2 linked regions of the Homo sapiens genome follow. The protein of the gene in region 1 binds, or shares a complex with, the protein of each later gene. Each region holds a gene or a part of one and is shown in the gene's direction. Other genes may lie near its edges.

Evidence for each region. The genes of interacting proteins can lie anywhere in the genome.
Region 2: NCAPG (region 1) and SMC4 share a complex: the UniProt entries of both Homo sapiens proteins name them as parts of the condensin complex.

Annotation. Positions count from the first base shown.
Region 1 is NC_000004.12:17,809,258-17,813,214, forward strand, and holds the start of NCAPG (condensin complex subunit 3), read left to right. Parts: upstream 1-1,721; 5' UTR 1,722-1,820; coding exon 1,821-1,931; intron 1,932-2,963; coding exon 2,964-3,167; intron 3,168-3,659; coding exon 3,660-3,888; intron 3,889-3,957. UniProt on the Homo sapiens protein: Regulatory subunit of the condensin complex, a complex required for conversion of interphase chromatin into mitotic-like condense chromosomes.
Region 2 is NC_000003.12:160,402,650-160,406,249, forward strand, and holds part of SMC4 (structural maintenance of chromosomes protein 4), read left to right. Parts: intron 1-26; coding exon 27-218; intron 219-1,678; coding exon 1,679-1,855; intron 1,856-1,938; exon of another isoform or gene 1,939-2,036; intron 2,037-2,095; exon of another isoform or gene 2,096-2,176; intron 2,177-3,600. UniProt on the Homo sapiens protein: Central component of the condensin complex, a complex required for conversion of interphase chromatin into mitotic-like condense chromosomes.

The DNA of each region.
Region 1 (3,957 bases):
AGCAGTAAACGAAGTAAAGTGCTTAGCATGGTGTCTGGCACATAATAAAGGTTAATTAAGTGCAAGTTACTATTATGAACATATCAATATGAACCACAGCAATATTGATTGAAAAAAGCCAGATGCACATATAATTATTCATTTAACGGTTAAAACATGCAAAATAGTACAATATCCTCATTCAGGGATTTATTCATGTCATTAATATATTAAAATATGTCATTAAGATATAGAAAGCTGCATGGTAAAAGTTAACAGTAAATTCAGAAAATCCATTACTTCTTCGGAGGGCAGGTAATTCAAAAGGAGAAAGATGTACAGGTGGCTTTAGTAATGTTCTATTTCTTCAGCTGGCAGTAGGTTACTGAGGTGTAGGAGAGGGAAAAACGGCTTCCCTCCATCCTCCTAGGTTCTTTGGCTGGGTTACAAATTAACCTGACATAGACATTAACAAGAAAAAAAACCCGTACTTAATTACATACGCAGAGGAGTCCCACCATGGTCAGATGATTGAATATTATACAGCATCCTACGCTACTCAAGAAATGGGGGCTTGCGGCTTTCTGGGGGATGGTGGCCACAAAGTTGTGGAAAGGTGAGGGGAGGAAATATACGGTGAATAAAAGTTGTCTTGGTATGCAGATAAGATCTCCCAGGTAACAAAAATTATCGCAGAGCTGCCCTCTTTCTGATACAGATCCTTTACTGATGTATATTTCCTCTGTAGATGTCAATTTCTTTTACAACAGGACAGATTTTCAGAGCGACTCCTGTGTCTGCATTTTATCAGAATACCAGCTCAAAATATACTCTAGAAGTATATTGTAGGGTGGCATATTTTGGTCTCCTACAGTCCTATTTTTGGATGGTGCATCCTGAGATCCAACAGAAGTTCTGTCTGATATAATTTCATTTAAAATTTAAAAACCTAGTTCCTACTCTTCTTTATTTTAACCACTACCCGAAAGACCTTTCCATTCTCTTGAGTTCTCCCTTAATACACTGTCCTTATGCACACTTGTAAACAGGGCCTACACAGCTGCACATCTAGAAACGGCAGCAGCTAAGTTAGCCCGCACCCCCCTTCGCAACGATCCCCGGACTGCCTGCACGCCCTGTGGAACCTCGCAGTCGGCTTCACCAGGGCAGGGACTAAGGCCTTCAAAAGACAGCATCCGTCTCCACTAACCTCGGGTCGCCCCGCTCAGCGGACCCAGCAGCGTCGTCTCCCTTCTCAGAGGTGGCCGGGCCTCCGGAACGCGCTACGAACTTTCCTTTGTCGCCGTCTCTCGAAGCGGAGCCCTCGTGTGGGGATCCCCCGCCCTTCGGCCACAAGGGAGGTTGTTATCCTCGGCAGATCTCCCGTTCTCACTCTTGGAGGATCGCTTTTTCTTTCTAGCCTCACGCTCAGCCGCACGACCCAGCCAGGCCTAACGCCAGCAGCCCTTCCCCTCCGGTGGCAAGGCCACTCCGCTCAGCTCCCGCGCCGACGCTACTTCCGGCCGAGTCAAGGCCCCTCCCCCTTAGAAACGCCACTTCCCTCCGTGAAAACGGCTGGACAAGGTTGAACCTAGACGCATGCGCCCAAAGCGCGGGGTGCGAGGTGGGTGGACCCATCGCTTCCCGCTCTCTTCTCCCAAAGCGCTTACGGCAGTCTCGCGGGATTTCCCCCTCTCGCGGGAATTATTTGAACGTTCGAGCGGTAAATACTCCCTGGGGCTGTCATAGAAGACTACTCGGAGAGCGCTGCCTCTGGGTTGGCGGGCTGGCAGGCTGTAGCCGAGCGCGGGCAGGACTCGTCCCGGCAGGGTTCCAGAGCCATGGGAGCGGAAAGGAGGCTGCTGTCGATTAAGGAGGCCTTTCGGCTGGCGCAGCAGCCGCACCAGAACCAGGCGAAGCTGGTGGTGGCGCTGAGCCGCACCTACCGCACGGTAAGCGCTCCCGGCCCCGGCCGCCGCCTCTCGCCCGCCCCGGCCCACCCTCCCTCAGGGGCCCTCCGTGGCCCTCGGGCTCGGCGCACCGTGACTCCAGCCTTGTTCACCTTCGCGACTCACTTCATAGGGATCTGAGGTTCGGAGAAGTCAGGGACTTACCCGAGGTCGCCTGGGCCCAGGCCAGAAAGCCTCCGAAGCCTGGGCGTCGTTCACACGGGCCCCGCCTTGGCTTTTCTGAGCCGACACCCCCAGCTTCTGGGCGGCGTGGACCGTTATTCCTTAGTCCGATCGTGAACGTGGAGAGAAACATTTACGACCACCGAGGCGATCAGACATCAAATATTGAACCGCAGAGTGGATCCTGAATGCGGGGGTTCAGTGGTCGTTGCCCCTGGGGTCATCGCTCCCCGCCGAACATCAAATGATTCTACCCTTGTCCTACGGTTACGTTGAATCCAATCACCAAATACCAAATTATTTTTAGGGCCTGGCCATTCTTATTTATGTACATACTATTTGTTTGTTTTGAGTGGAACCTTGAGAAGAATAGAACAATTAATTTGGGGAAGATGAATTATCTTGAGGTCCAAGAAAAATTGTGAGTAAACATCACAGGGCTTTGAGGATATGAGATAGGATGTGCAAGTTATCTCATAAAGAAACTGCTGGTGATAGGAAGGCCTGAATATGAGAAATATAAAAGCCAGTATTGATTTTGGGTTGTTGAAGAAGCGTATTTGTAACGTACTGGTACTAAAGGCTTATTGAGAATCAAAGATATTGAAAAAAATATATCAAAGGAATCTTTTCACTGTCAAAAGTCAAGCTTGTGTACTCCCATTATAGCCTGGAGAGAAATTCATGCAAATTGATTGCCCTTTGGCTGGTTTGGATAATTAAGAGTTTACTAAATAAATATTTTAATTTGTCTGCATTATTATGGCTAGTGCTTTCATCAGTCTTAGGGTGATGTTGGGAATAAAGGATTTTTATCGGTGCAGTTTATGAAGGGTTTCTTTTGTCTTTCAGATGGATGATAAGACAGTTTTTCATGAGGAGTTCATTCATTACCTTAAATATGTTATGGTGGTCTATAAACGTGAACCAGCTGTGGAGAGGGTAATAGAATTTGCAGCAAAGTTTGTTACCTCATTTCACCAATCAGATATGGAAGATGATGAGGAAGAGGAAGATGGTGGCCTTTTAAATTATTTGTTTACTTTTCTCTTAAAGGTACTATGAAAATGATAGCTTTGGGGAGGGATTTTAGAAAATTTTGCCACTTTAAAAGAGTCGTGGGAGTTTGTATGTTTTTGACAATGAAATATCTAGTGATTGAAAAAACCTGAATGAGTCTACCTTTCATAGGAAATATTAGAATTATCATTATGATTAAAAAGTGGACTTTAACTCCAGCATTAAATTTTTAATGACCTCTTTAAACCAGTTCTCCTTTGTTTATTTTAAATGAGTTCTGTATTTTAGAAGCCTCTACAAAGAGGACTATGTAACTTAGCAAAGACTTCTTTCAGACTGTTCATTTTGAGACTGTATAAAATATATATATTTGCTATACATATGGACCAAGGTAGCATTATAGGTTCTCTTCAGGAAATGAATTGTTGTTGTAACTTCTTGCATTCCGAATGTATAGAGTTCAGATAATATTGATTATTTGGGAGTGGTATGTGACTATGAATAAATTTTGATTTGTTTCTGTTTTAGTCTCATGAAGCAAACAGCAATGCAGTGAGATTTAGAGTGTGCCTGCTCATAAACAAGCTTTTGGGAAGTATGCCAGAAAATGCTCAGATTGATGATGATGTGTTTGATAAAATTAATAAAGCCATGCTTATTAGATTGAAAGATAAGATTCCAAATGTGAGAATACAGGCAGTTCTGGCGCTTTCACGACTTCAGGATCCCAAGGATGATGAATGCCCAGTGGTTAATGGTGTGTGTAGTTTCCTAAATCTTTTTTCAGATTTGTTGATTTTGTTAAATTCTCAGTATTTGAAATTTT
Region 2 (3,600 bases), on another chromosome or scaffold:
GTTTTGTTTTTGTTTTTTTAATGCAGCGCTTTTCCTGTATTATCGGGCCAAATGGCAGTGGCAAATCCAATGTTATTGATTCTATGCTTTTTGTGTTTGGCTATCGAGCACAAAAAATAAGATCTAAAAAACTCTCAGTATTAATACATAATTCTGATGAACACAAGGACATTCAGAGTTGTACAGTAGAAGTTCATTTTCAAAAGATAATTGATAAGGTAAGGGATTTTTACTGTTATTGGCAAGTTCAAGTAAGGAAAATGGACTTAAATGCATTACATATTTTATTTTTGGCTTTAAGAAATTTGTATGTAATTACAGCGGAAAGCATTGGTTTCATTATCTCTGACCGTATTTTATTTTGGGGGAGTGGTGGTGCCTGTTAAAATACTTATTTTTTAGCTAAAGAAATGAAGTATAAATAGTTCATAGTAATCCTTTTTGGAATAAAAGCATTGAGCAGTTTTAGGGTCCTGAGTACTAAATAGGCATTATTTTACTATAAATATTCAGTTCATTTTTAAAGTTATATTTTGATTGCTTTAGAATAAATTAGCTAAACTTGAAAATGTAGCAGTTAGCCGGTTTTACCATCTTCATTATTTCAGTGCATTTTAACTCTAATGTTAGTGGCCCCTGAGTATCTGTGATATGAAAGAGCTTTGCTTCAGTTTGACTACTGCTGTAATTAAGTCCTTTAGAAATGGGGGAAGGACAAGCTAATGTTTGTTTTCTAGAAATGGAGACAACTAGAGGTAAAATGTCTAGATTATTTACCTGTTGAGACTTTTTCTCTTCTGTTTAATAATGTAGGAAATTGATTGTTCAAAAATGACTCGATGGAACCTAAAAATATAGAAAACTAATTACATAATGAAATTGGGAGGTGATTTGTCTTTTGAATTCGTTTTCCTTTTTTTAATACAAAGTGCTTTAATTACACAGAATCATCTATTTTAATTTGGTTTCTTTTGTGCTTTCTATTGTACAAGTTGGGTTGGAAAATAGATTGCCAGGAAATCAGATTTTATTCCATTGCATATTAATTACATTTGATTTATCTAAATTTTAGAAGCCTTTGCTTCAGTATGACAGAACTTTTAAGGTTAAGGGAAAGTGTTAAAGTAGATTTGCAATTGATTTTTTTAAAAATCTGTTTAAAAGAAAATCAAGGGAATTTAGTTGTTATTTCTTTGTGATTCTTTTTACTTTAAATTAACGGCACACTCTTTACCCTCCCACACAAAAAAACTAAAGTGTATCACCCGGTTACTACCTTCCTTCCTTTTTCTTTGAATCATCATTTTAAAAAGCTGCAGCTTTTTAATCTGTCAACATGTTAATAATTTGTGTGGGTTTTGGATATGGTGGGAATCTTGTCTACGTCTTCTCAATCATAAACGTTTTTAGGCTTGTTTGGAGGTGGGTTTTTTCGTTGGCTGGTTGGTTTGGCTTCTTGATTTTTGTGATCTTTGAGAAAGGGACCAAAACAGCATGGAAAAGTATCAATTCTTTGCTAAGTTGGGTTATTAATGAGAACTACTGGCAGTTTGTGTGCATGTTCAATTGAAGTTTTTAATCCATAGAATTAGTTTCAGTATGAAATGAGTGAATTTTGAAGTAGGCCTATGACTTAATACCAACAATTGTTTTCTGGTTTTGTTTTTCCTCAAAACAGGAAGGGGATGATTATGAAGTCATTCCTAACAGTAATTTCTATGTATCCAGAACGGCCTGCAGAGATAATACTTCTGTCTATCACATAAGTGGAAAGAAAAAGACATTTAAGGATGTTGGAAATCTTCTTCGAAGCCATGGAATTGACTTGGACCATAATAGATTTTTAATTTTACAGGTAAGTTTATTAAAGACTTCAAAGATTCTCTTATTCTTGTTACTTTTTTTTCTATAAAGCTAGGTTGGATGAATCCTACATTTTTGAGGCCTTAAAGTACTGTAGCAGCACATCATGGTTTACATGCTACAGTCAAGATGCGAATCATTATTTGCTGCTCTAGAAATTTAAGGAAATTCATTCAAAACTATGTTTTCATCATCAGATGTTCGTTTTATGTTTGGATGAACTGACATACTTGTTCCACTCTAGCAGCACGTAAATATTGGCGTAGTGAAATATATATTAAACACCAATATTACTGTGCTGCTTTAGTGTGACAGGGATACAGCAACTATTTTATCAATTGTTTGTATTTCCCTTTAAGGTAACATTTTAAATGAAATGTATTATATTTTAATCTATCCTTTTCCTTTGTTTTTGTTCTTATTATCTCTTCTGATATATAACCAAAAAATGAAAAAATCTGTACACTTGGTGTTTGATTTACCTAAGCACCTAGTTAATTTAATCTTTGTAACACTTTGGATGGTTAACTTAACCTTTACTCAAGTTGGTTTTTGTTTTGTTGAAAATGACTTACTTGGTGGAACCACTACTACTGAAAGAACGAAACTTTGATATTACATTGTTAAGTATCAGAGCTGTTACAGAGCAAGTCCTTTTAAAGAGATGTAAAAATTAAGTACCTGTGCCAAACTGATTTTTATTAGAAACCCTGTTTTCTTTAAGTAAAAGTATATTCTACCAGCATGGCTTGGTAAGAAAAATCCCCTATCTTTTTTTCCCTGTCCTCAAAATTCAGAATTTTTCGGAAAAAAAAAAAATTAGGGTAAAACCATGGCTTTGTCAAGTTCCTGTTTGATTCGAGGGTATCTTCTTTTCCTGTGTTCTATCCAGAATCACCGAAGCATAATAAAAGCAAAACTATTTTGTGATGCAGAAATGACTGAAATAAGTAGGGAATTTTGTTAGGGTGACTGGATGTTCCTAATAACAAACTTATAAAATGTTAGCCTCTGTTTCCATTTTAGTCTTTATTCTTCAATTGTTTCTAAAAATTATTACTTTTAGACATTCATAGTATACAAGGTAAATCAGTATCATTCTAGGATAACCTTTTTTAATATCTTTTGTTACCAGGCACAGTATATTTGCAATACTTCAACCTAAACTTATTTAAAAATTAATGTTGAGGAAATTAATTGCAGATATATTTCTAAACAAGATTGGAATTTATAGAATGTGGCATTAAAGGATTTTGTGTGTTTTTAAAATCAAATTGAACTGTTTTATTGACTTACATATTCTGGGACTTGGTTTGGTTAATAATGGATAAAAAGTTATGTCCCTATATAATACTAAATTTGATGATGATACCAATTTGCAGGAAATTGTACTTATGTTTATCTTTTGCTTAATCTTTTACCGTCATCCTGGGATAATCAAAGTTTTACATTTATCCAAAGATTCATCAAAATACACTGCATTTTAACCCTTCTAAGGATAATTTTTTTCTCTGTACAGCATCTCTGTACGTAATTCAGTAATAAAGGAAGCTAATGTAATATTGTCCCAACGAAGTAAATAATTTATAAATTGTCAAATTTATATTACATTTGTGCTTCTGAAGTATATGGGATGCTAAAGCCAATTTGTTCACATGATAATCTGAACCTTTTTATGTGATCTTTACAATTGTTTAAAAAACATTTCTTCCCAAATAATACAAAGGTGAATGTTCC